Linked DNA regions of Homo sapiens: all the other regions are reported to be linked to region 2. The links are microRNA targets in miRTarBase. Many come from high-throughput screens and were not tested one by one. Region 2 holds a microRNA gene; each other region holds the end of a gene's coding sequence.
What was found. Region 2 holds the annotated microRNA hsa-miR-4423-5p (AGUUGCCUUUUUGUUCCCAUGC, at 2,671-2,692, shown strand). A microRNA usually pairs through its seed, bases 2 to 8, with sites in the 3' UTR of a target mRNA and lowers its output. Matches are read on the target gene's strand: a 7mer-m8 pairs with bases 2 to 8, a 7mer-A1 pairs with bases 2 to 7 and ends in A, and an 8mer does both.

Region 1: miRTarBase lists LEPROTL1 as a target of hsa-miR-4423-5p. The part of its 3' UTR that is shown has no 7-base or 8-base seed match.
Region 3: miRTarBase lists TAS2R5 as a target of hsa-miR-4423-5p. The part of its 3' UTR that is shown has no 7-base or 8-base seed match.
Region 4: the mRNA of WDR82 is a reported target of hsa-miR-4423-5p. Seed matches in the 3' UTR shown: 8mer at 2,001-2,008 and 7mer-A1 at 2,778-2,784.
Region 5: the mRNA of CD300E is a reported target of hsa-miR-4423-5p. Seed matches in the 3' UTR shown: 7mer-A1 at 3,030-3,036.
Region 6: miRTarBase lists MED29 as a target of hsa-miR-4423-5p. The part of its 3' UTR that is shown has no 7-base or 8-base seed match.

What each region holds. Positions count from the first base shown.
Region 1 is chr8:30,105,232-30,109,320 of GRCh38, reverse strand. It overlaps LEPROTL1 (leptin receptor overlapping transcript like 1), which reads right to left. Exons shown (of 4, transcript NM_015344.3): 4 at 797-3,575. The coding sequence ends at 3,459. Among named protein-coding and RNA genes, the nearest start is that of LEPROTL1, 12 kb to the right of the region's middle.
Region 2 is chr1:85,131,136-85,135,209 of GRCh38, forward strand. MIR4423 (microRNA 4423) reads left to right here and starts at 2,659; the gene lies at 2,659-2,738. DNAI3 (dynein axonemal intermediate chain 3) reads left to right here. Exons shown (of 23, transcript NM_145172.5): 23 at 1,720-2,003. The coding sequence ends at 1,863.
Region 3 is chr7:141,790,727-141,794,815 of GRCh38, forward strand. TAS2R5 (taste 2 receptor member 5) reads left to right here. Exons shown (of 1, transcript NM_018980.3): 1 at 1-641. The coding sequence ends at 535. Among named protein-coding and RNA genes, the nearest start is that of TAS2R5, 2.6 kb to the left of the region's middle.
Region 4 is chr3:52,253,673-52,257,761 of GRCh38, reverse strand. WDR82 (WD repeat domain 82) reads left to right here. Exons shown (of 9, transcript NM_025222.4): 9 at 243-3,328. The coding sequence ends at 272. Among named protein-coding and RNA genes, the nearest start is that of PPM1M, 10 kb to the right of the region's middle. RefSeq lists an enhancer at 4,012-4,089.
Region 5 is chr17:74,609,266-74,613,354 of GRCh38, forward strand. It overlaps CD300E (CD300e molecule), which reads right to left. Exons shown (of 4, transcript NM_181449.3): 4 at 620-3,508. The coding sequence ends at 3,388. All of the region lies in intron 3 of LOC101928343 (a long non-coding RNA gene), which reads left to right. Among named protein-coding and RNA genes, the nearest start is that of CD300E, 12 kb to the right of the region's middle.
Region 6 is chr19:39,397,355-39,401,435 of GRCh38, reverse strand. MED29 (mediator complex subunit 29) reads right to left here. Exons shown (of 4, transcript NM_017592.4): 4 at 795-3,979. The coding sequence ends at 3,737. Among named protein-coding and RNA genes, the nearest start is that of ZFP36, 7.5 kb to the left of the region's middle. RefSeq lists an enhancer at 3,066-3,115.

The DNA of each region.
Region 1 (4,089 bases), not on the chromosome of region 2:
ATCTTCACTGAAAGAAAGGGCAATACAAGCTTATAGAGAAGAAATACGAATTTCAATTTCCCACCAATCGTATACATCATAAAGCATCCTGGGATCTAAAACACACATACCACTTAACAATAACGTTGTGTTGCTTGTTAACTTTGGTGCATTGATTAAAAGTTATCTGAAACTTAAAAATCTAGTCACATTCAATATAAATATCCTAGACTTTAGAAATCTGGATTATTTTGGCCAAAGTGTGGTGGCTCACGCCTGTAATCCCAGCACTTTTTTTCGGGGCGGGGGGGTGGTTTGAGGGGGGTTGTGGTGGTGATGGCTTGAGGCCAGGAGTTTGAGACCAGCGTGGCCAACATGGCAAAACCCCATCTCTACAAAAAATACGAAAATTAGCCAGGCGTGGTGGTGCAGGCCTATAATCCCAGCTACTCAGAAGGCTGAGCGGCAGGGCGATAACTTGAGGCCAGGAGTTTGAGACCAGTGTGGCCAGCATGGCAAAACCATGTTTCTACAAGAAATACAAAAATTAGCCAGGTGTGGTGACCTATGCCTGTAATCCCAGCTACGTAGGAGGCTGAGGTATGAGAATCGCTTGAACCTAGCAGTTGCAGTGAGCCAAGATCGTACCACTGCACTCCAGCCTGGGCACAAAGCAAGTCTCAAAAAAAAAAAAAAAATCTGTATTGACAATGTCCCCAAAATCATATTAGAGCAGACATTTAGTGTCCACAGCCTAAACTTTTTAAAGTATATGATAAGATTATAATTAGGACAATTTGGGACACGACTAATATTTGAAAATACAGAACAGTACTTTTCTCTCTTCACAGTGTACCAAACAGAAATATTTTTTGTTTAAAATGTTTGCAAAAAGTAACATGCTATAATAATGAGTGGTAATAAATACATAATAAGAAGTCATAAAAATGTTCTGAAAATTTAAGAAGTAGGACCTTGCCTTTAGATCAGTAGTAGTCTTAAATGTCAACAAAACCTTTTATGACTATTTTTGTAAAAGATTTTGTAAAAATTCTACTTCCCAGATTACCAATCCTTTTACTACAGCTCAAAATTACAGGGCTGCATTGTAATATCTGTAACTATGGTTTCCATTTTATTTTGGAATGGAAACTTCTGCAACTCTAACATTACACCAATGTCATCTTGCTTTACATCACCTTATTAGAATGTTAATGCACTTCAGAATGAAAGTGTGCCATATATTTTCATTTCAAAAACACCCACAAACTAAAATAGATATTTAAAATCTTTATTGTTTCATCATCAAAAGTTTTCTTTCCATAGAAGAATGGTAATATTGTATCAGTGCATATTCTATGGAAAATTCATATCTCAAGTAACTAGCCTAGAAATCAGAGACAGCACTATGTCAAGCTAGTATACAAGGTCAAAGACACAATGCTGCCAATGCAGTTAGTATATAGAAATAATACGCAGCTGTTAGAAAAAGTCTGTGGCCAAGTGGATAAAACAGTAGCAGTGCACTGCACTGACATCCAGAACAGAAAATAGGGAAGGACCAGAGAATGCACTTCCTGCAAAAAAAAGTCCAGTAGATCACAAGCACAAAGAGTTCCCAACTGTCTCACCAGCTCTCTAACTCATGTGTACCTGCACCTTCCTCTTGAAATCTGAACATTATAATACCACAAGCCACTTTCAGCCTCCAGTGGGAAGGCTCCAGCCACACGCCGATATTTCGTCCTGCTTCCCGTCATCTCATATCTAAAAGTCATGGCTTAAGTTAGGCAATAAAACCTGTGGCTTTAGGCATCTTTAGTAAAAAAGCTGAACAAATCCCAAATTTATTCCCATTTTCTTGAGAAATAAACTTCATAAAACAACAGACAGCTGTCATGATTACTGAGTTTTGGCTGATGGCGAAATAATTTTTATGTAAGTATACTGAATAAACATACAAACAAATATCCTTAACAAAATACTGTCAGACCAACTTGAATGTTTTTATAACCCACTCCTGAAAAAAGTCCTGATAATTATTAGATGTAAACGACCACTATAAATTGATCATGCCTGGTTACTGGGAATTTTTTGGTCAGGTATGTTTCTGAAGCTGCTATATAGCTGGACTTGGCTACTTTGCATTAACTCACACAACAAATGCCTTTTATAAGGAAACAGCAGATCTATCATGATGAACTCAAAATCAAAACAGTTCAGAGGTATACAGGAAACTTGTCTTAAAAATACTTTTAAATTACATATGATATAACCTTAGAGAATAAGAACTACTATTACCATGGTCTAAATCTTAAACTGTTAATGCATGAATTATCTGTAAGACTAACAAGTTACTTGTTAATCATGGCAAGGCCTTGCAGGGGAGGGGGCACTCTGAATGTACGGCATAGCAATTATTTTCCAGGTAAGTAAACACTTCTAAGTGTTATTAAACTATATTTGAAAAGTTATTTTATGTAATATATACAACATACCAAATAAGTCAAAAGGAGGAAGCAGAGGAAGGTTTTCTGGCATATATGATGCAAACATACAACTGTCCCTCATCAGTAGTGGTTCCATGTATGTCCATTTTAACAGGGTAAAACATGAAAGGTTGATAGGAGATCACAAATTTCACTTATAAATAGAAACAGGATTCAAAAACTGGAATTTCAATGTCATTTCTTCCCACATTGCAACTCACTCTAACAATAATAAACATAAATAAAAACCTTATCTCAAAAATGTTTTTACACCCTTACCTTAAAGTTTAACATAAATTCTTCTAACAATTGAGAAGAAAAGCACTCCTCTGTAGCAATTCCATAAAATAATTTTCAATCCACAAAACATCTGTCTACCAGTAAAACCAACAACCCTTAACGGAGGGCATGGGCATTAACACTTGGCCCCTCTGAGGTATAAATGCAGCTATATTTGCACTGAGTATACAGTCTATAACGTATGCCAACCGTCTGTATGTCTGCATAACATTGGGAGTGATGTCATCCTGACTGACTGAAAACTTATTTTTATAATTTTTTGTAATAATGGAGGCTAAATAATTTTAAGAGAAAAGATGTACTTGACCAGTAATAGAGCCGGCGGAATTCTGAATTCCTAACCAATGCAAATGATTACATTAAAAAAGTGTTTAACATTGCATATTGATTCCAAAAAAAATCAACCTAACAGGAAAAACACATAAATATTTAAATTCAGCAGGACACCACAAAAAGCATACTATAGATAAGTGTGAAATCAGTCAAGCTTTTCCAAAAGAGAAAATCCTTTTAATCCTTCAGCAAGTCTCTGTGAAAATAGTATGCTTACAATAAAAGTGAGAAGGGAGCACCTAAAATACCCCCAAGAGGCTTGCTATACCATTCAGCATTAACTGCCCCATCTCCTGTGTGCGTGAATGGCCAACAAATGACAGGAAGTCCATTTGACAATAGTTCAGTAATTTCTTTTCACCACTGCTGCCAGCTGAAGTCGTCATTGCTTCCAAAGACCAAGAAAAAGCCTAGTATAGTTGCAAAGATGACTGTGTTTCCTGTGAGAACAAGTGCACAAGCTCCCCACTCAATCTATGGAAATAAGATACACTCAGTCAACAGGCATGAAAAACGAAAGGAAAATAAAAAAAAAAATCAAGGCTCTAGTTGTATCCCAATTATGATCTAAAAGAAGCATGCCTTGTAACAATAATTGTCACAGTGCTGAACACATACTTATAAATATATATAGTATAAATATATATAGTAAAAAAATATATAGTATAAATATATATAAATATATACAGTATAAATATATTTATAGTATAAAAGTGGTACTTTTATACTAGTATTTTCATTTACCTTTGGTTCCTTTAAAAAGAAAGTCATGAAATGACCATTCAAAAACAAGCTTGACTTCTGGGCTATGAAGAAGCAGCATAAAATTCTACAAGTTTCTGTTTATAAAGGAATGTGCTTACTCTTCCTTAATATAAAAATCTATCTAGAGTAGATTAAATTTTAGCATATCACAGATGGAAACACACCCATGTACATTCTTTTGAAGGGGTGGGAAAACAATTGCCTTCTCCATATGGCTGTCTTC
Region 2 (4,074 bases):
CCTTCAGTCTCAAAAGCATTAGCATGTGGCACTGGGCGCCGTGGCTCACACCTGTAATCCCAGCACTTTGAGAGGCTGAGGCAGGCAGATCACGAGGTCAGGAGTTCGAGACCAGCTTGACCCACATGGAGAAACCCTGTCTCTACTAAAAATACAAAATAAGCCGGGCATGGTGGCACATACCTGTAATCCCAGCTACTCGGGAGGCTGAGGCAGGAGAATCACTTGAACCTGGGAGGCGGAGGTTATGGTGAGCCGAGATTGTGCCATTGCACTCCATCCTGGGCAACAAGAGCGAAACTCCATCTCAAAAAAAAAAAAAAAAAAATAAAGCATTAGCATGTGGAAATATTGTAATGTGCTGCATTAGCAAATAAATTAACATTATCACTCATTGATAAATACTAATTAGTGCAATAAAAGCAGAGGATCTCATTTCAAAACATGTTTGGTGACAAAGTGTAAAAGAATGCCAATTAATTAAACTTTCATTGCATTCCACTGCTACAAACAAATTGATCTTAGTTTTGTTCTTTTGCACTTAACAAATGTTGATTTGTTGAGATTCTATTGTGGGAGAGAATCTGCCACCCTTCCCCTTCCCCAGCAATTATCCACGATTATTATGAGTGTTTAAATACCATAGCAACAGCTCCTAATTATCTACATCAGTGGGAGCGAGTAGAATTGTGGATAATCCAAAAATAATTTGCATGTGAAATACTTTTTAAACACCTGAATATTATAATAATAATATCTTAAATTGTATTATACTTTTCAATTTCCAAAACGTTCCCAACTTCTTGTAACTTTATTTCCATTTGATATGGTGCCCTCTTTTAAGTAAAGCCACCACTTCTCAAATTTTCTCTGCAACTATGAATAGATTGTGGGTATGTGAATGAATTTGAAAGGGTTCCTCTGTTACATTGAGAACATAAAAAAAGTCACTAAGGAAAAACAACTAATGTTAGTCAGAAATGTCTCCTTCTAAGCAACGGCTGATAAAGGGGGAAATGGCAACAGTAACAACCTCAGAAGATTGCAATGGAGCTTAAATGAGTTAAAATATTTACAGCACTTAGCCAATAACTGGCACATAGAAAGTGTTCACATGTTCGTCCAGCAAGGCTGGCCTGTGTGAGTGCTCACCAGGTGCCAGGTTGAGGCTGTACAGTTCAACACAGATTTCAGGAAAATCATGCACCTGTCTCTTTGCAAACATAAAATCTGGAAACAGCTCACTCCTCAATGGACAATAATAATCACTGCTCTAGTTGCATATGAAATGGGAATTTTCCTAACCAGAATTTCAGCTGGAGACTCAGCCTGGGACAGTAGTCATTGCCGTGTGATCCACAAGCTATGCCATCCATATGGACTCAGAAGAGGGGGATTTCAAAAGAATTCTGCAACCTCTAGGCTATTAGTCACCCTCCAGTCTACATAAGGGAAACAAGAGTTATAGGGAAGAAGGCCGGAAAAAGGGACTTTTTTTTGAGAGACAGTGGTTGGGGACCATGTTTCCCCCCACTCCCTCCTTTCCCAGCACATCTGACTGCCTCCTGCCCACCTGCCCTCCTGCCTTCCTGCCCTCCATCCAGCCCTTTCCAGAAAACAGCAGCCAGGTCAACTATTCACAAACAGCCCCTTCTCATCCTTTGGTATTTTTAGATATCAGTGTTTTATAGGGATGTCTTGTTTTTCTTCCCCCCCCAGAAAACATATCAGAAGTCAAAAGAACAAATGCAGGCTGAATTAAAAATGGACTATGAGAGTTATCTGGAACTGGAAAAGACTGTTCTTATCAACCTTGGCCTAATCAAAGTCACAGAGAAGGGGTCATACATGGAGGTGATGTAAAAAAGCTTCCTGAAGGGGTGTTTTGGGGACTTCTTCCCTCTATTTATTTTTATGTCAGGTGAACTGGCATGCTGAACATATATATATATAGGCTCATTTATAGACTTTTATTTCCCTGCTATTAAAACTTTTGAATTTTAGCAATGAGATCTATTTCAGTTTTTGTACCATGTATGTACCAAATTTTGTACTGAATATGAAAGTGTTCTTTTTTAATGAATGTTTTCAATAACAAAATTTGTATTTTCCTATAATAATAGAGAACTTTGGATGTCCCTTCCATCCCAATCCTTGCTGTCCACACAGAGGCCCTCATTCCAGGCAGAAGGGGAAATCAAACTGCTCCTACTTATCAGCTTGCTTTTGGCCACCTTTCCAAAAAAAGTGCTTCCCCTTGGCCACTGTACAAACTGTAGGGCCATGTGCTAAACAAAATATTAGCAAATCAAATCCAGAAATATATATATATATATATTTTAAAGAGGTTAACACATGAAGACAAAGTTGGGTTTATCCAAGGAAGATAAGGTTAATTTAAGAGTAGAAAATAAATCAGTGATTAATCAAAAGAGAGAAATTATGATGCCAAGTCGATGCAGAAAAACATTTCATAAAAGTTGACATCAATTCATGATAATAATGATACATTCTTGGCATCTACAGAAAGAATTCCTGTAATGTGATGAAGGGCGTGTAAAACAATACTACACCAAACATGGTACTTCATGGTGACAAGCAGAAAGCTTTCCCCTGAGATGTGGAACAAGACACAGCTCACACCATCAGGTGCCTGACATCATGTACTGCAGTTGCCTTTTTGTTCCCATGCTGTTTAAGCCTAGCATAGGCACCAAAAAGCAACAACAGTATGTGAAACTGAGACACAAAAGAGCTTGGAGCCAGATTGTGAAGGCTCCTGTTTACCAAGCTAAGGAGCTGGATTAGAATTTATGGGGAATGAATGGAAGGTCTAAACAGGAAGTTGACCCAATCAGCTTTATTTTTAGGAAACAAGGAATGAACTAGAGCAGGGGAGAGTCTCATGGCAAGAAATCCTATTAGGAGGCAGGAGGAATTGTTCAGGGCAAAGGATTAGGATGCCCTGTACTAAAGCTTAATGTGAAGATAGAAATCAAAGGCTGGTTGGATGGGGAAGGGAAGACAAAGGATAATACCAAGGTTTATAAGTTAGATTGCTAGAGGAAAGAAAACTTTGTCGGATAGATTTTAGCTCTTAACCACCTGTGTGCCCTTGAACAGATGACCCAGCTCTGTGAAACAGATTCCCCTTCCATCAAGTCAGGTTGAGAGAACTTAACTTGCAGCATTTATGTAAGGGGCAAATGAGCCCCTGCAGATAAGGGGCCTGTGCCTGGCACATATTATTGTCATCATGATTGAAATATCCCAGGGCTCATCCTTACACTTGAACTTCTTTTATTCTTTCTTTTTTCTGCACTCACTTTCTAGGTGCATGCATCCACTCTCAAGGCTTTAGATACTACCTCTGTCCCTGACCTGGCCTTCTCTCTAAAATCAAGAGATGTGTATCTATTTGACCTTTTGTATCTCCACTTGGATGTTTAATAGGCATCTCAAACTTAAACATGTCCAAAATTGAGTGCTTGATGTTTCCCTTCAAAAACCATTCCTCCAGCAGTCCTCCCAGCCATGATGCTGCTTGGGGCAAAAGCCTTAAGGTCATCCTTCATCTCCTTTCTTTCACAATCCACATCCAATCTGTCAGCAAGTCCTGTTGACTACACGTTCAGTATGCATGTGAAACCTGATCGCTTCTCTTCTCCCTCACTGCTACCACCATGGTCCAAGCTGCATCATCATCAGCTTGGATTTTGCAGCAGCCTCCTGTTCTCCCTGTTTCTATGTTGTCATTTTCAGTCACTTTCAGCCACAGCCAGATGGTAGTTTTAAATGGATGCTGTCAGATGCTGTCATCCTTCTGCCCAGAATCCTTCCTCAACCTCATAGTATGATCACTCAGAGTATGTTCCCAATGCCTGTCTGTGCCCTGCAAGCCCTTGTACAGGCAGGCCTTCCACTGTCACCTGGTCCCATCCCTCCTTCCTCTCCCCTCCATCACACCCATCCCAGTCATGCTGGCCTCCTGTTCACCAAACATGCCAGGCATCTTCCTCTCCCTGGGCATCTGTGCTTGCTGTTCAGTACTTTCTCCAGAGATTTTTCTAATTT
Region 3 (4,089 bases), not on the chromosome of region 2:
CTATAACCTGAGTCTCTGGTGCCTTCTGGGCTACTTTATAATCAATTTGTTACTTACAGTCCAAATTGGCTTAACATTCTATCATCCTCCCCAAGGAAACAGCAGCATTCGGTATCCCTTTGAAAGCTGGCAGTACCTGTATGCATTTCAGCTCAATTCAGGAAGTTATTTGCCTTTAGTGGTGTTTCTTGTTTCCTCTGGGATGCTGATTGTCTCTTTGTATACACACCACAAGAAGATGAAGGTCCATTCAGCTGGTAGGAGGGATGTCCGGGCCAAGGCTCACATCACTGCGCTGAAGTCCTTGGGCTGCTTCCTCTTACTTCACCTGGTTTATATCATGGCCAGCCCCTTCTCCATCACCTCCAAGACTTATCCTCCTGATCTCACCAGTGTCTTCATCTGGGAGACACTCATGGCAGCCTATCCTTCTCTTCATTCTCTCATATTGATCATGGGGATTCCTAGGGTGAAGCAGACTTGTCAGAAGATCCTGTGGAAGACAGTGTGTGCTCGGAGATGCTGGGGCCCATGATCTGGGAAGAAAAGTGTGGTCAGGACACTCTTGGGACGCTCTTTTGATAGCTCTCTATAAGGGAGCTGCTTTCCATGTCTTTTAAGATTTTCCTTCTTTTACACCAATGTAATGAATGAGCAACAGAAAATACGGATCAAAACCCAATACTATGTCTCTTTTGGCAATGCAAAGTATATTTTTTTAATGTACCACAGAAATCAAGGCTAGGGCTTCATGTTTGGTAAAAGAGGTATTATATTCTCTCTACATATAGCAAATAATTCATATATAAATCGTGTTTTTCCTATTATAAAAAGCAGAGATTAGGAACAATTCTGTCTACATATAGCAAAAATTCATATATAAATTGTGTTTTTCCTAGTATAGAAAACAGAGATTAGGAACAATTATAGTGATCATTAATTTTTATGAAATTTTACCTATACATTAATGTTAGTCATTTTAGATATGCTTTTTAAAAAGTATCAAATAATTTCCCCATTTCTCTGCTGTAATGTATCTAATTATCTAACTGAAAAACAAAACAAAACATCTTTATATTTCTGGAAGTTTCTTTGAGCCCTAGCCTTGGCTTTCAGAATAAAAATCAGGCTCACGCCTGTAATCCCAGCGCTTTGGGAGGCTGAGGCGGGCGGATCACGAGGTCAAGAGATCAAGACCAAATTAGCCGGGCGCGGTGGCGGGCGCCTGTAGTCCCAGCTACTCGGGAGGCTGAGGCAGGAGAATGGCGTGAACCCGGGAAGCGGAGCTTGCAGTGAGCCGAGATTGCGCCACTGCAGTCCGCAGTCCGGCCTGGGCGACAGAGCGGGACTCCGTCTCAAAAAAAAAAAAAAAAAGAGATCAAGACCATCCTGGCTAACATGATTAAACCCCATCTCTACTAAAAATACAAAAAATTAGCCTGGTGTGTTGGCGGGCACCTGTAGTCCCAGCTACTCGGGAGGCTGAGGCGGGAGAATGGCATGAACCCAGGAGGTGGAGATGGCAGTGAGCCGAGACCATGCCACTGCACTCCAGCCTGGGCAACAGAGCGAGATGCCGTCTCAAAAAAAAAAAAAAAAGCAGAATAAAAGTCAGTTGGATGCCATGATCTGTATTAAGCTCCAAGGCCCAGGAACTGAAGTGGGGCAATATGAGAATGAGGGGCACTTGATTCTGCTTAAAAAAAATAGACTGCCTTTGAAGAGGTCACGCTGTCTGCTCTTCAGTCATTTAGCCATTTTGCCTGTCTACTGTGGCCTCACCACAGCCTACAGTCAGAGTTCTAGTGTGCCAGGTCTTTGAGTTGGAGGGAGATCATTTAGAATGCCAGATCCATGGCAGTAGGAACTGTGTCTGTTTTTATTTTCTCCCACGTCTCTGTGACTAGAACACTGCCTATTGCATAATAAACGCTTAATAAATATTTTGTAAATGACTGAATAGCTGTGCTAACTGGTTTTACAATGCCTCCTTTGTATTGTAGGTAGAGAAACTGATGCCCAGAGAGGGGCAGTGGCCTGCCCTGGGTTTCATAGAGAGCCTGTGGCAGTGCTGGGACTAGAGCTGTTTCTTGACTCCTGGTGCAGGGCTCTTTCCTTTACAACATGCTACTTTCCTAATGTCCTTCCCTCCTTGGAACCCCATGCCTCTTTCTACAGACCCTTCTACACAACTTATTCTCTTCCTTCTTTCTAGCCTTCTTTGTTTCAGTTCCAGGGGGATCTGAAATCCAAAGGACAACACTTGGCATTCTTAAATATTTTTTTTTCACTTCCTATGGATCACACTAATCTACTTTCATTAATCTATTCTCTCAAACATATCTTTTTCTTACCTGAATCTGAGAATTGAGGTACATGCTAGGCACATGTGGATATTAGTCATCACACAGGGGGAGATTGGTTCCACTGTCACTGTGAGTTGTGTGAGGTCAAGTACCATATTTTATGTCCTGGGAAGGATCATATTCATTCTTTTTAAATAGAAAGGTGCTTCTGCTTGGTTATATTTTTGTTAGTAGGATGAATTTTCATTATACCATTTCTATTTTTTTTACAGATGTCCTTTGTGACCAATTGTTGTAATAGTGACAATAGTATTTAACATTTGTATTGGGCTTTACATTTTACCAGACAATCTCATATATAGTCCATTATCTCATTTGATTTTAATAGCAACTCTATGCAGTAACCAATTTTATCCCCAATTCACAGGTGACAAAACTCAGGCTGGAGTGATGGTTTGCCCAGGATCATGAACTTGTAAATAATGCAGATGGAGCAGACCCAAATTTTTTGACTCCGAGTCTTGTGCTCTTTCCAGTAAATCCTAAGTATCTCATTGTTCATACTTGTAAGACTTCAAACTAGGATTAGCCTGTGGAACTTCCCTCAAGTTTATGAGTATTTTTACACACATGCAATAAGCAACTAATCTTTCAAATTTGGTATTGATGGGATGCCTGGGTGCTAAGATCCAAAATCACAACAGATCAAAGTTTATGATCTGCTTTTCTTAGTGACAAGGTATGGAATCAACCTAAGTGTCCATCAACACATGAACAGATAAGGAAAATGTAGTGTATGCATGTATGTGTATCTGTTTCATTTTCTACTTTTCTGTACTGTTCAAATTGTTTTTAGCCATGCTCAAATATCACATTTGAACATTTGAACAGATAAAAAAATGTAGTATACATATGTATGTGTATATATGTATACACACACACAATGGAATATTATTCAGCTTTAAAAAAGAAGGAAATCTTGTCATTTGAAAAAATGTGGATGAACCAGGAGGACCATTATGCTAACTGAAATAAGCCACATACAGAAAGACAAATACTGTAAGATCTCACAGATGTGTGGAATTTCAAAAAGCCAAACTCACAGAAGCAGAGTAGGATGGTGGTTGCCAGGGCCTGGGACGTGGGGGAAATAGGGAGATGTTTGGTGTCTGTTAGGAAGAATGAATAAGCTCTGGAGAGCTAATGTACAGCATAGTGACTATAGTTAATAGAACCGTATTATATACTTGAAATTTGTGAAGAGAGTAGATGTTAAATGTTTTCACTAACAACAACAACAAAGATAATTGTGAGGTGGTGGATATATTAACTTGATTGTGGTACTCATTTCACAGTGTATACATATGTCAAAACATCATGTTGCATACTGTAGATATATACCATTTTTGTCAATCATTCCTCAATAAAGCAGGAAAAATTATTGCATTTTCCACATCACCTTTTGGGATTTGATTTCCTTCTTTTTCTGTACACAATTTACCTTATGATGCGTATGAGACTGCTTTGTGTTTTAGCAAAGAAAACAAATGGGAAGGCAAATATATACTCTTGAATTGATTCCTATGTAATTGAATCTTTTATAATTTGCATTCTTAGAGTTGCAGCTGGATCCATGTGTGCGTGTGTGTGTGTGTGTGTGTGTGTGTGTAGATGTTAATGGCCTTACATTTAATTATGTGATATGCTCTGTGGTGGTGTAGCCGAGAGGAGACGTGAAATGTTAAAAATGTGATATGTGAGCATGGCTAAAAACGATTTGAAC
Region 4 (4,089 bases), not on the chromosome of region 2:
GCGGGGGGTCTGCTTTGGTGGAAGGTGGACAGTGATTATTGGAGAAAAACAGAACCATTTTACTTTCACATAGAGGAAAGAGTGTTTCTGTCTCCTTAGAGCATCGGGGTTGGTTGGTTAGGAGAGAGGGCTACCAGAGCCACTGGGGTTGGGCACATTTTTGCTGTGGGGTGGGATGTGAAGAACCGTTGGCAGTGAGGAGATGCTTGGCTTTTTAAAGTTGATTTATGTTCTCCTTCTAGGCCTTTTGGTTGCCCACCATTGATGACTGACCCTGTTGCTGCTTGGCTATTTCTGTATAGTGAGGGCGGCCAGCAGGAAGAAACTCAGAGGGAACTGAGATAATAGTGGGATTGGATCATTTGACTGGGCTGGAGAACATCCTTTTACATGGCCTTCCCATGGATGTGCTGTACATCTGCTCAAAAGAAAATAATTACTTTGATGAGCGTCTTCAAAAGGACTCTTGGTGCAACAGACTCAATTGGAACTCAGCTTTTCTAACTGTCACTGCACCAAGCTCTGCTGGAGGAGTGACCAGACTCACGATTTGGTATAGTGGGGCTCTCAAGCATCTTCAATTTGAATGTACATGCTGCTGAGGAGCCGGTGAAGTCATCAGTTCCGCACATCCCTTCTACCCTCCAACTGCATGGGAAGCCAAAGTCCTGGTTTTGAAATGCTTGGGCAGCTCAGCCGCTTGCCCTCACCCTGCATGTCTTGTTACTGGGTCTCCCTGTGTACTTGTGGCATTATCCACAACCATCATGTTTCTTAGGTGCCAAACATTTACAGAAACATTTTCATATATCTTGGGGTCAGAGAAAGGGACAGATACAGAAGGACCTTGCTTGCAGGAAGCCATGCAGTTAGTTTCTGCAGTTAGTCGTGTGAGGCTAGGTGGTTGGGCAGGCCTCGGGCTGTAGGTGTTGGGTGGGAAAAAGACCCAAGGGCCTGAAAGGGAGGGAAAGGGGAGGGTAGCGGGAGGGTAGCAGGTGAGTTCCTAGGGCTGGAAGGTTTAGCAGCAGCCTGGTGCAGTGCCCTGTCATCAAGACAAACCCACGGTCCTCCTGGGTGCCTACCAAGCTTGGTTTGTACAAAAGCAAGGTGGGAGTCTATTTTTGTACATGAGATACATCACACTTACCTGTGGGCCAGTATTGTGAAGTGAGTCTGAGTTGTTTACACTGATGCCTTCCCTGCCCACCACAAATTGTGTACATAGTCTTCAGATGATACCACCCCTTTCCCCAGCTCCCAACCAAGAGCTGGTTCTAGGCCTGTGTTATATGTCATATTTAGCGTTTTTATATATGACCTTTGATTTCTGTTGTTTGTATTTTAGCACAGTGTATGCACCTTCATTTAAATACATCTGTGTGCATACAGATACGCATATATGTGTGTGCGTATGCATATATCTCTCATCTGTAGTTTCCAAGAGTTCAGCTGAAGCAGATGGAGTCCTGCAGCCCAGGAGACACCCTGCATCCCTGCTAATAGTGTTTGCCACAAGTATTAGTGAGTCTTCCTTATTAATATTTTCATTTCAGAAGACTGAAGCAAAGCTGATAGTGTTTGCTGTTTCTTTGGCAGCTAAGTGAGGGTCTTGGGATGACTTGCTGTGTTCCTCAAGCTGCACTTTGGGGCCATCTCTGCAGTATTAGCCCCCTTTTTGCTTGGTGGTACTCTGTCTGTGCCTGTGTGTGTGTGTGATAGTCACTCTTGCATGGCTTCCATGTCTGGTTTGTGGCATTTGGGGATAAGGTGCTGAAGCCAGAGCATTTGCAGTTTGTTTGAGGCCTCGTTGCCAATGATAGATCACTCCTGTTGACCTGGTATGTCTGCTTGCTTGCTGCTTTTCCTTGCTTTCTCTTGGAAGAGGAAAGGACTCTGGTCAGGCCCAGGCTGAGTGAGATGAGCTGCAGCTGGCTCATGGCCTTCTTAGAGCAGAGAGAGGAGTATGTCATTTTACTAAGTTCCTAAACAAACATTTATGCAGGCAACACTCCTTGCAGATCCAGAAACTGAGGCACAATAGGGTTATGACTTGCTCAAGAATATGTAGCTGCTAGGGGGTAAATCAAGGCATCACAATTTCTGTTCAGCGGGCAGGAATAGGCTGTGAATTGCTAGCACTTTTTTTTTTTAAGCAATTACTTTTTGACTTGTTCCTCTGAAAGTGCAAGAGGCGTACACCTTTCCCAAATGTAGACTAGAATCTGCAGGATGCCACCCACTGTATAGTTCTGCTTTCCCAGAGAGGAAGAACTTTTAGAAACCAAATGATCTTAATTGTTATTGCCCACCCCTGGCTTTTCCGGGTAGAAAATTCACAGTAGGAATGATTGTTAAGAGAGAGTGCTTGGAACCATGGGTTAACAGGAAAGGCTACCTAACTTCACATATCTGCAACCAGAGCAGCCACCAAGCATTACTTAGCAGCAGGAAAATGATTGTATTTGAGTTCCTGTGTGTCCAAAACTGAGCACCATGTTCTTTGAAAACATGCCACCTCAAGGCTGGGCGCGGTGGCTCACACCTGTAATCCCAGCACTTTGGGAGGCCGAGGCGGGCGGATCACCGGAGGTCGGGAGTTTGAGACCAGCCTGACCAACATGGAGAAACCCCATCTCTACTAAAAATACAAAATTAGCCGGGCGTGGTGGCATGCGCCTATAATCTCAGCTACTTGGGAGGCTGAGGCAGGAGAATTGCTTGAACCCAGGAGGCGGAGGTTGCGGTGAGTTGAGATCGTGCCATTGCACTCCGGCCTGGGCAACAACAGCAAAACTCCGTCTCAAAAAAAAAAAAAAAAAAATGCCACCTCACAGTCTCTATCGTTGGGCCCTGTGGTTGCAAAGCTGCCTCCTGAATTAAGAAGGAAAGGGAAAAGATATAGCTGGAAGCGAGTGGAAGAGATGCTGAGGGCTGGGGCTGCACAGACGTGCTCAGCAGGGCTACAGGTGCTCAAGCCCTATTGGGGATGGGTGGGGAGTGGGGCAGCGGCGTTTGCCACCTTAAGAATTGGGGCCAAAGCCACTGATGTTTATTTGACAGTGACACTGCACTGGGTACTTAAAGAAATTATTTCCCGTTGTAATTATAATTACTGCTTATTAAGGAAAATATGGGAATTTTAGAAAGAATCAAGTTTGCCACCCAAATGCTACCACTGTTAATCTTTTGGTGTTAAATGTTCCCCCTAGACATTTCTGTGCATAGATTTTTGGTGTGTTTACATAGTCGTTATTCTGTATATACAATTTTATGTCCCTTTTGTACTTAACGTATAAACATTTTTTCCATGTTACAGTCTTAAACAGAATTTTATGGCTGCAGCCTCTTCGATTTGAGTTTCTGTAGCATGGTTTGCCTGGTTCCCAGAGCTGGAGGGAGGCTTGGGTTGTCTCCTGTTAGTTCTGGCTCACACTGCAGCTTGCTGTAATGCTGTGTAGACGGATTGCTGGGCTCCCTGGGACTGCCTCTGACTGCCCCTTGGTAACTAAGATTTATGGGCTGGTGGGAGGAACCCCTAGAACCAGCCTTCAACCCCAGGCTGTAATAGCCATAGAGCCAGCAATGACTGACGGGGCAAGGCAAGCCTGAGCCAGCCTGAATCTTCGGAGACTGTCTGGCACTTACCTCAGGCTGCCTTGCATCCTCTACTGTTTACTCAACCCTTCACCAGATTGACAACCTCTAGTTGGAATATGTTTTGTCCTGCTAGACCCTGGTTTCAGGAAGGCAAGAATACTGGAGTCTCTCTGAGGCCCCAGCACCCAGTCTGGCAGAAGGCAATTGCTTTGGTAACCCATTTGCCTGGAGGCTGCTGCTCTAGCTCAGCATTCTCAGAGCTGTAGAACCTGCTTCCTGCTCTTGCCTCGCCCTCTCTGGACCAGAGAAGAAAACCTTGGGCCTGCCACATTTTCACATTGCTCATGGGACTCTGCAACAGTGGCGGAGGGAACATCCTAGCTTGTGTGTGACAGGCCATGCACAGGCTCTTCTGACACTACGTACGTAGGAAGAGACCCCCTCCTGGCCTGGTGGGAGGACTGCTGCCGTGTTCAGCTCTGCTGGGAGACA
Region 5 (4,089 bases), not on the chromosome of region 2:
AAGTCTGCAGTCTAGCTAACAGTATTGTAACAATGCTGGTTTCCTGGTTTGGGTCTTGTCCTACAGTTATATAATACATCACCATTGAAAGACACTAGATGAAGGATTCACAGGACTCTATGTTATATTTGCAATGTTAAGCCTATAATCATTTCAAAATAAAAGTTTCAAAAATTAAAACCTCCAGGGGCTCCCTATGGCCTCCAGAACACAATTCAAACTTCTTGGTCTGCCATGAAGCCCTTTCAGACTGAGGCTCCAGCCCCATATCTCACTCCTCCCTCACATGCACTCTGCACACATGGTAATGGTAACGTAGCTCCTGAAGGTCCTGGTATCCACCATGCTCTATGACTCTTCCCTACCATTGTCTGGGACAATCATCCCCCAGTCTTCTGCCCTATTTTTATAACTCAAGCCCTCAATTTTCCTTCTCCGCTTGGCCCTCATGGGAGTGCCTCCCTTCTGTGCCCCCACAGAGCACTGTGCAGAACCCTGACACAAATTCTAACACACCGCATCGCTATTGTTAGTCTACATCTTAGACTTCCCTTCTAAAGGAGTAGGGACTCTGCATAGTTTAAGTCCTTATCTGTAATGCCCAGAACAATGCACCATAGACACACAATAAAAGTTTATTGAATGAATGAGTAAATAAAGGGAAAAAAGAAAGGAAGAATAGGGGAAAAAAAGGGAGTAAGGGAGAAGGGAAAATTCAAAGCATGGAGAAGCCACTGTTTGTTTCTCCTGCACCTGCTGTCTGCCATCTGTCTACTCTTTCTTAACTCTTCTCTTCTGGCTTCTGCTGTCATTGCTCTGTTGATCTGCTCTTCTGAACTTCATTAGTGACCTTGTGAATGATAAGTTCAATAGCCTCCTCTCAATCCCGGTCCTCCTCCACCTCTCTAGCTCTGCTCTCCTCCTTGAAACATTCATGGCTCTTGACTTCTCATCTTCCACCTGTTTGATTCTGCTCCAGCACCTTGATCAATGTCTTCCTCCTACCCTTTGTCTTTAAATGCAGGTGCCCCGAGGGCTCTGTCCTTGGTTCTGAACTCTTCCCTCCATGTTTTCACTTCTTGCTGGGTTCCAGTTAATCTCTCTACACACATTCCTCTCCAGCCCTCAACACTCTGCTAACCCACATCTCTAGCTATCTGCTAGACCTCTCTGCCTGATGATTCCAAACACACAGAAAACTAAGCTCTGCATCATCCAAGCCTGCTCTTGACTTTCCTACTTCTGTCAATGATGCCCGATTCCTCTGGTTTTCCAGGCTTAAGACTCCGGACTCCCAGATTCTTCCTTTCAGACTTTGCTACATCTGCTAGGCAAGTCCTCCTAAAGCACATCTGCAATCCCATCTTGTTCTGCTCAAATCCATCCCACCATAGCTAATCAAAGTTTAAGTAAGAGTTGAGTCCTAAGCCTCCTGAACCTGCCACCACCTGAGTTCTTCTAGATTAGTTCCATCTGGCCTGCCACAGGAAAATTTCACTCCATTGGAATCTTAGACACATCCTACCATGAGCATCTGTATGTGAACAGTACAGTCCATTTGCTGATAGGTCTTCTATAAGTGACTATTGTTATGAAGATTATTTCCCGCCTCTCTGCTTTCACTTATGCTGTTTCTCTGTCCTCTCTCTCTCCCTGTTGCTCCATCCCTGCTCCGCTGAAATCCTATACCTCCTTCAACATCAACATGAATGTCACCTTCTTTCCCTGACCTGGCCAGCTTGGCATGATATTCTCCTCACCAACCCCCTGACATCAGGAAGCATCTCTTGTGGCTCTAGAGTTCTTCCTATGCTGTAATGACTTGGGAGCTTATCCTTCTCATAAAATGAATCATAAGCTCCTTTCTTGCTCATCATCATATTTCCCGGGTTAATATAATTAATATGGGCCTTGTTAGATTGAATTTCTCTTTCAGCATGAGTCCTGGGCCAGCCCCATCTTTCCCCTAGTCACCATGCATGATGGAGCTGGGAGCCCCACCAGAGCTCAAGTTCAGAGCACGGCAGCTCTGCCTAAGCACTCGGCACTCAGAGGGTCACTCCATGTGCTCTGGACACTGGCATCACTAGCTCAGGATGAGCTCAGGCCTGGGGGCAGAGGGGGAGCACTGGTCCAGATGTAGGTAGCAAGTGGAGATGGTGATGCTTGCTTGTGGCAGACTGTGGGAGTCCTCCCCACAAACTTTAGGGAAACAGAGTAATTGACAAACATTCAGAAAACCAACTGAGCTCATTCCCGAGCCAGGGGTCACCAGTAGTGGTGATAGCACTGTGCACTTCAAGTGTGGACAAGTATCCTTCACCTCTGTGCCCTCCATCCTGTCTTTGAAAAACGATATCTGCTCTGCCTGTGGAAAAGGTTAATTGCTAACAGGTGGTCTCAGCCAGACTTCTAAAGTGGACAGAACTGACTCTGTTGACCTTGTGCATTGGACACCTCCAGGTGGGGGAATTCCAGGAGTGATATCAGGGGCACCCACCAGCTCCTTCTCCCTTTACTGTTTCAACTCGCCCCAGAACTTTAACCTGGAGCAGCTCATCCACGGCCCACCCAGGCAGAGATGTTCTGAGCCCAGCCACACACTGCCTGGTTACAGGGAGAGAAGGGGCCTTAAAGCCAGGGAGACCCAAGGGGCGTCAGAAGACGAGAGGAGCCCTGAGCATGTGGGACACTGGGCAACTGCATGAGCAAGCTCTGCCGGGACCAAGCTCCCTTGGGGTTGTCCCAGAGAAGAGATGGAGCTCTGTGAGCCTAAAGGCTGGGGCTGTGAGGGGTGTGTCCTCAGGGAGACTCCTGTCTGCAGGAAGGAGGTAGTTATTGCCCTGGGGGAAACTGGCCTGAGAAGCATTTGTGCCAAGAAGAATGAAGGGCCAGGCTCCTCCAGAAAATTTTTTCCCTCCCTTCCTCCGTCCTTTTCTCTCTCTCTCTCTCTCTCTCGCTCTCTCTCTCTCTCTCTCTCTGTCTCTCTCTCTCTCTCTCTCTCTCTCTCTCTGAGACAGGGCTCTCTATGTTGCCCAGGCTGGCCTGGAACTCTTACGTTCAGCCGATCCTCCTGCCTCAGCCTCCTGAGCTGGGATTATAGGCACTCGCTATGGTGCCCGGCCAACTTCCAGGGAATTCTTGCCCTTGGGAAGTGGGCATGAGGGCAGGGAGGCAGGGGACTGGGGAGGAGAAAGGAGGACCCCCAAGCTGCACATTGAGGACTCCAGAGGAGTGTCCTCTAAGAGCCAGGACCCTCCTTTGAGGCACAGGAACAATAAATCCCTCCAGAGTCCACAGGTCTCTCGCATCCAGTCTGAAAGGTTGACTCCCTGCACGGGGCACTCCTGGGGATGGGGCTCTGCAGGGCTTCGGGTCAGCCTGGCTCTATCTTCCAGGAGGAGCCCACTGAGGCCTGTTCACCCAGAAGACAGCACCCAGCATGCTCAGGAGCAGGGGCAGCTTCAGAAGGACCACGAGCAGGAAGTGAGGGCTGCTGAGCCGGAACCTGTGGTGGACACGGTGAAAATGAGTCACTTCCCCGGGAGAACCCCCAGGACCCTTCTCTCCCCACCTCTCCCCATGCTCTGACTCTGGAGCCCAAATAACCCAGGAGCAGCCAGGGAAAGGACCTATGCCAGGGCAGCCCCTTCTGTGGCCCCCATCCCTCCTTCTCCCTCCATCAAGGACTGCCCGGGGGGTCTCATCAAGGAGAGGTGATGGAGTGAAGACAGAAGAGGGACCCACTTCCAGGAGTGCGCTCCACAGCACCCTCTCTGTCCCTGTCCCACTCACAGCCTCCACTTTATCAACTGACTTCTTAAAACCAGTCCCCACTCTCGCTTTTTTTATTTTCTGAGACAGAGTCTCACTCTGTCACCCAGGCTGGAGTGCAGTGGTGCAATCATGGCTCACTGCAGCCTTGACTTCCTGGGCTCAAGTGATTCTCCCACCTCAGCCTCCTGAGTAGCTGGGACTACAGGCGCACCACCACACCTGGCTAATTTTGTATTTCGTAGTAGAGACAGGGTTTCACCATGTTGCCCAGGCTGGTCTCAATCTCCTGGACTCAAGTGATCCACCGCCTCG
Region 6 (4,081 bases), not on the chromosome of region 2:
GTGGGACTGTCAATGGGATGGGGTCCCTGGGGGCACCATGATTGTAGGATGGTGGGTTAGCTCTGCAGTGGGGCAGACATGCTGTGTGCTGGAGTCCCCACGGTCTGTTTTGTGGTGGCTGTGCACCTCACGTACACCCCGTCCCTGGAGCATGCAGTGTGCACCAGACTGTGTAGTCTCCCTCTGGGTTTAGTTACCTAGCAAACCCAAGTCCTCACCAAGGCCCTCTGTGACCTGTCTGGATTTCCTCTCCTATCCCTGCTCCCTCATTGTGCCCAAGCCTCCTTTTTATGTGTTCCATAAATCCCAGCACATTCCTGTCCCAGGTCCCTGGCACTTGCAGTTCCCTCTGTCTGGAGCACTCTTGCCTGGATGTGTGGATGTCCCCAAGCTCATTCCCTCTCCTTCGGGGCTGCTCTAATATCGCCTTCTCAGTGAGGCCTTCCTTGACCTCTGTCAAGGATTAAAACAAAAATTAAAAGGCCCACTGCAGTGGCTCGTGCCTGTGCCTGTAATCCCAGCACTTTGGGAGACCGAGGCGGGCAGATCACTTGAGGTCAGAAGCTCAAGACCAGCCTGGCCAACATGGTGAAACCCCGTCTCTACTAAAAATACAAAAATTAGCCAGGTGTGGTGATGCACGCCTGTAATCCCAGCTAGTTGGGAGGCTGAGGCAGCAGAATCACGTGAACCCAGGAGGCGGAGGTTGCAGTGAGCCGAGATGGCGTCACTGCACTCCAGCCTGGGCGACAGAGTGAGACTGGTCTCAAACATATATAAACAAGAATAAGAAAACCCTTGTCATCTATTTAATAATAAATACATGGAACATATATAAACCATAATGAATGCTCACGAAACCACAATCCAACTTAAGTTCTCAAACTTTTAATGTTTTTCAATAAAGTAACACGATTCTCCATATGCAGATGTTACATTTCATGTGTTAGATTTGCTAAGTATGATTTAATTATACATTTCCATTTTTTGATCTTCAACTTAATTACACTTAAAAAATGAGTATTTTGCTGGTGTAAACACCTCCACTTCTTTTTTTAAAAAAACAGGGTCTCCATGAACCAAGCTGGAGTGCAGTGGTGCGATCACAGCTCACTGCAGCTTCAACCTCTCAAGCTCAAGGCATCCTCCCACCTCTCAGCCTCCGAGTACCTGGGAACCTGGGCACGCACCACCACACCTGGCTAATTTTTGAATTTTTTGCAGATAAGGGCTTTTGCTATGTTGCTCGGACTGGTCTTGAATTCCTGGGCTCAAGCCATCTGCCTGCCTGCACCTCCCAAAGTGATGGGATTACAGGCCTGGGCCACTGTGCCTGGCCCCAACATCTCCACTTCTGATCTCATTTTTCTGTTTTCTCACCATCTGATATATTTTACTTTTGTCACATTTACTGTCTCTCACTAGAACATCAGCTCCACAAATACAGGCCTTGGGCACAAGATACCCAATGTGTTTGCTGAGTGCAACTCAGTGGTGCCCACCTCCGCCCTGTGCCTGATAGATGTGTATCCATCACCCCACCACCCACTGAGTGCCTCTGTGGGCTCCCTGGGTGTGGTTTTAAGCATTGGTAGGCCCTGTATCATGGGTGCTGGGCTATCAGGCCCCCCCACCTGTGTGTGATGTTGTGTTGACACCACCTGGGAGGGCCGACAGTCCCTCAGTCTTGTGTGTGCGCTCATGGACCGACATCTCCACCACTGCTGGTGGGCTCTGTTGGGGAAAGGGTTAGTTGTCTTCAGTTGTATGCAAGATAACTGCATCATGTTGGGTGGGACTATGACTATGTTATCGTACTTATTTGGAGATTAAGTGTGGTTAAGGAGATGTGTGAGGGTGCCCAGATGACAAGGACTAGATGGTCAGTTTTTTATTTTTTTTGAGACAGAGTCTTGCCCTGTCGCCCAGGCTGGAGTGCAATAGTGTGATCTTGGCTCACTGCAACCTCTGCCTCCCAGGTTCAAACGATTCTCCTGCCTCAGCCTCCCGAGTAGCTGGGACTACAGGTGTGTGCCACCACACCCGGCTAATTTTTTGTATTTTTAGTAGAGTCGGGGTTTCACCGTGTTGGCCAGGCTGGTCTCGAACTCCTGACCTTGTGATCCGCCCGCCTCGGGCTCCCAAAGTGTTGGGATTACAGGCGTGAGCCACCGCCCCCGGCCCGATGGTCAGTTTTATGTGTCAACTTGGACGGGCTACAGTCCCAGTTATTCAAACACTCATCTAGCTGTCGCCATGGAAGTGTTTTGTAGATGTGATTAAAGTCCATAATCAGTTGACTTTAGATAAGGGAGATTATCCTACAAAATCGGGGGATTGGGTAAAAAACTGATTCAATTAGATAAATGGGCAAAACTGAGGCTCCCCTGAAGGAGAAATTCCTCCTAGGGACAGCGCTTCAGCCTTCCTTCTTGCCCTACATGCTCGGGCACTTCAAGGAAGAATAAGGGGAGGAATTTCCTGGGACACACAGCTGGCCATTTCCCAGTTTTCCAGTGTGGGGACTTGGGCTCAGCGTGAATCACAGAGGTATCCATGGTCCTAGGGTTTCCTTGCAGACGTGGGGTCCAGGACAGGAGGCCATGGAGTGCGAATGTGGGAACCATGGCACAGAAGATACTGGGTGGGGCAGTTCTCCAACCAGGCTGAGTCACTTGAGGCTTTCACACCCCAACATCTGAGCCTGGGCTGGTAGCTCCGCCCTGCACTTGCTCAGGCCTGAAGGCTGAGGCTGAGCTTCCTGAAGCTTCCAGGGAAGCAGGGAGTCTGAGGGGGCACTCCCTCCTTGAAGCCCCCTCCCCAGTGCCTGCTTCCCGGAGCTGGGGCTCAGGCGCCTGGGTTCTTCCCCAGGACTGATGATTCACCCCGGCTGGGGCCTTTTCACTTCTCCTTTGGGGCTAAAAATACTGGGACCCAGGCATCCAGCTGGGCCAGCCTTGCCACAAATTGCACAACGCCCCTCACTCAAGTTCCGCTGACGCAGGCTTGGGTGGGGGCCTGAGTTGCTCCCTGCTCAGACCTGTGGAGCTCAGAGCCTGGGCCCCTCCACTGCTCCTCTCCTAGGCCAAGGACCCTGGGGTCTGGGCTGACATGCGAGCCGCTGGGGGACTCTGGGCTTGGCTGTGGCCCCTGGAAATGAAGTCCCTTCCCTTAGCCCCAGATAACCCAGGGGTGCTGGCCCCCTGCATAGACACAGAGTCCCAGTTAGGAGCTGGGGATAGAAGACAGCTAAAGGGGACTAAGAGAGAGAGGTCAGAGTGAGAGAAATAGGACCATGGGGAGAAACACATTAACAGGAACAGAGAAACAAGGGAAAAAGAGACAGGATGAGAGAGACACAACTGTAATAGAGACACAGAGGAGTGGCACACAGAGACCACCTCCCAGCTGGAGACAGTCAGGAAGGACTGAGGGAGAGGGGACAGCCAGGGCTCCACACCCAGGCAAGAATGGGGGAGGGCCTGTGGAACAGAGAAGTCATCAACACACACAGTTCAAAGTCTACCCTAGGCTAGGAGGGGGAGCAGGAAGAAGGGGCAGGGACGCAGGGGCCCGGCCTGCGAGCTCCCTGTTGGCCTCTGCTGCCCCCTGCTGGCTCCCGCTGCGGTGCTCAGGCAGGAAGAGAGGAGGCTGCTGTGTTTAGGCCCAGGACGCTCTTCATTCCCTTTGCACACCACCCACCAACCACTGCCTGCCCCACTCCCTGTCCCCCACTTCACAGAGTGCCCCCAGGGCCAGCAGGTGGTGCGGGTGTCTTGCCCGTGACCTTGTTGGCACAGTCCAGCAGGGCGGTGTGAATGTCCTTGGCACAGGAAATCTGGGCTTTGATGACCGCCAGGTACTGTGGGTAGGGGAGGCTGTCAGGCTGCACTGCGTCGGGCTTGGTGGCTGTGGGCACCAACGTTGGAGAGTGCTTGGCACTGTCACAACTCTGTGACAGGCACTCATGCGCCAGGCGCTGTGGACAGGCAGGCAAGGGGACAGCATCAGCTCCACCCGAGGTCATTCTACCCCACCCCAAGGGCCAGCTGGGGGTTGTCGGCTTGGCCTCTGGATTTCC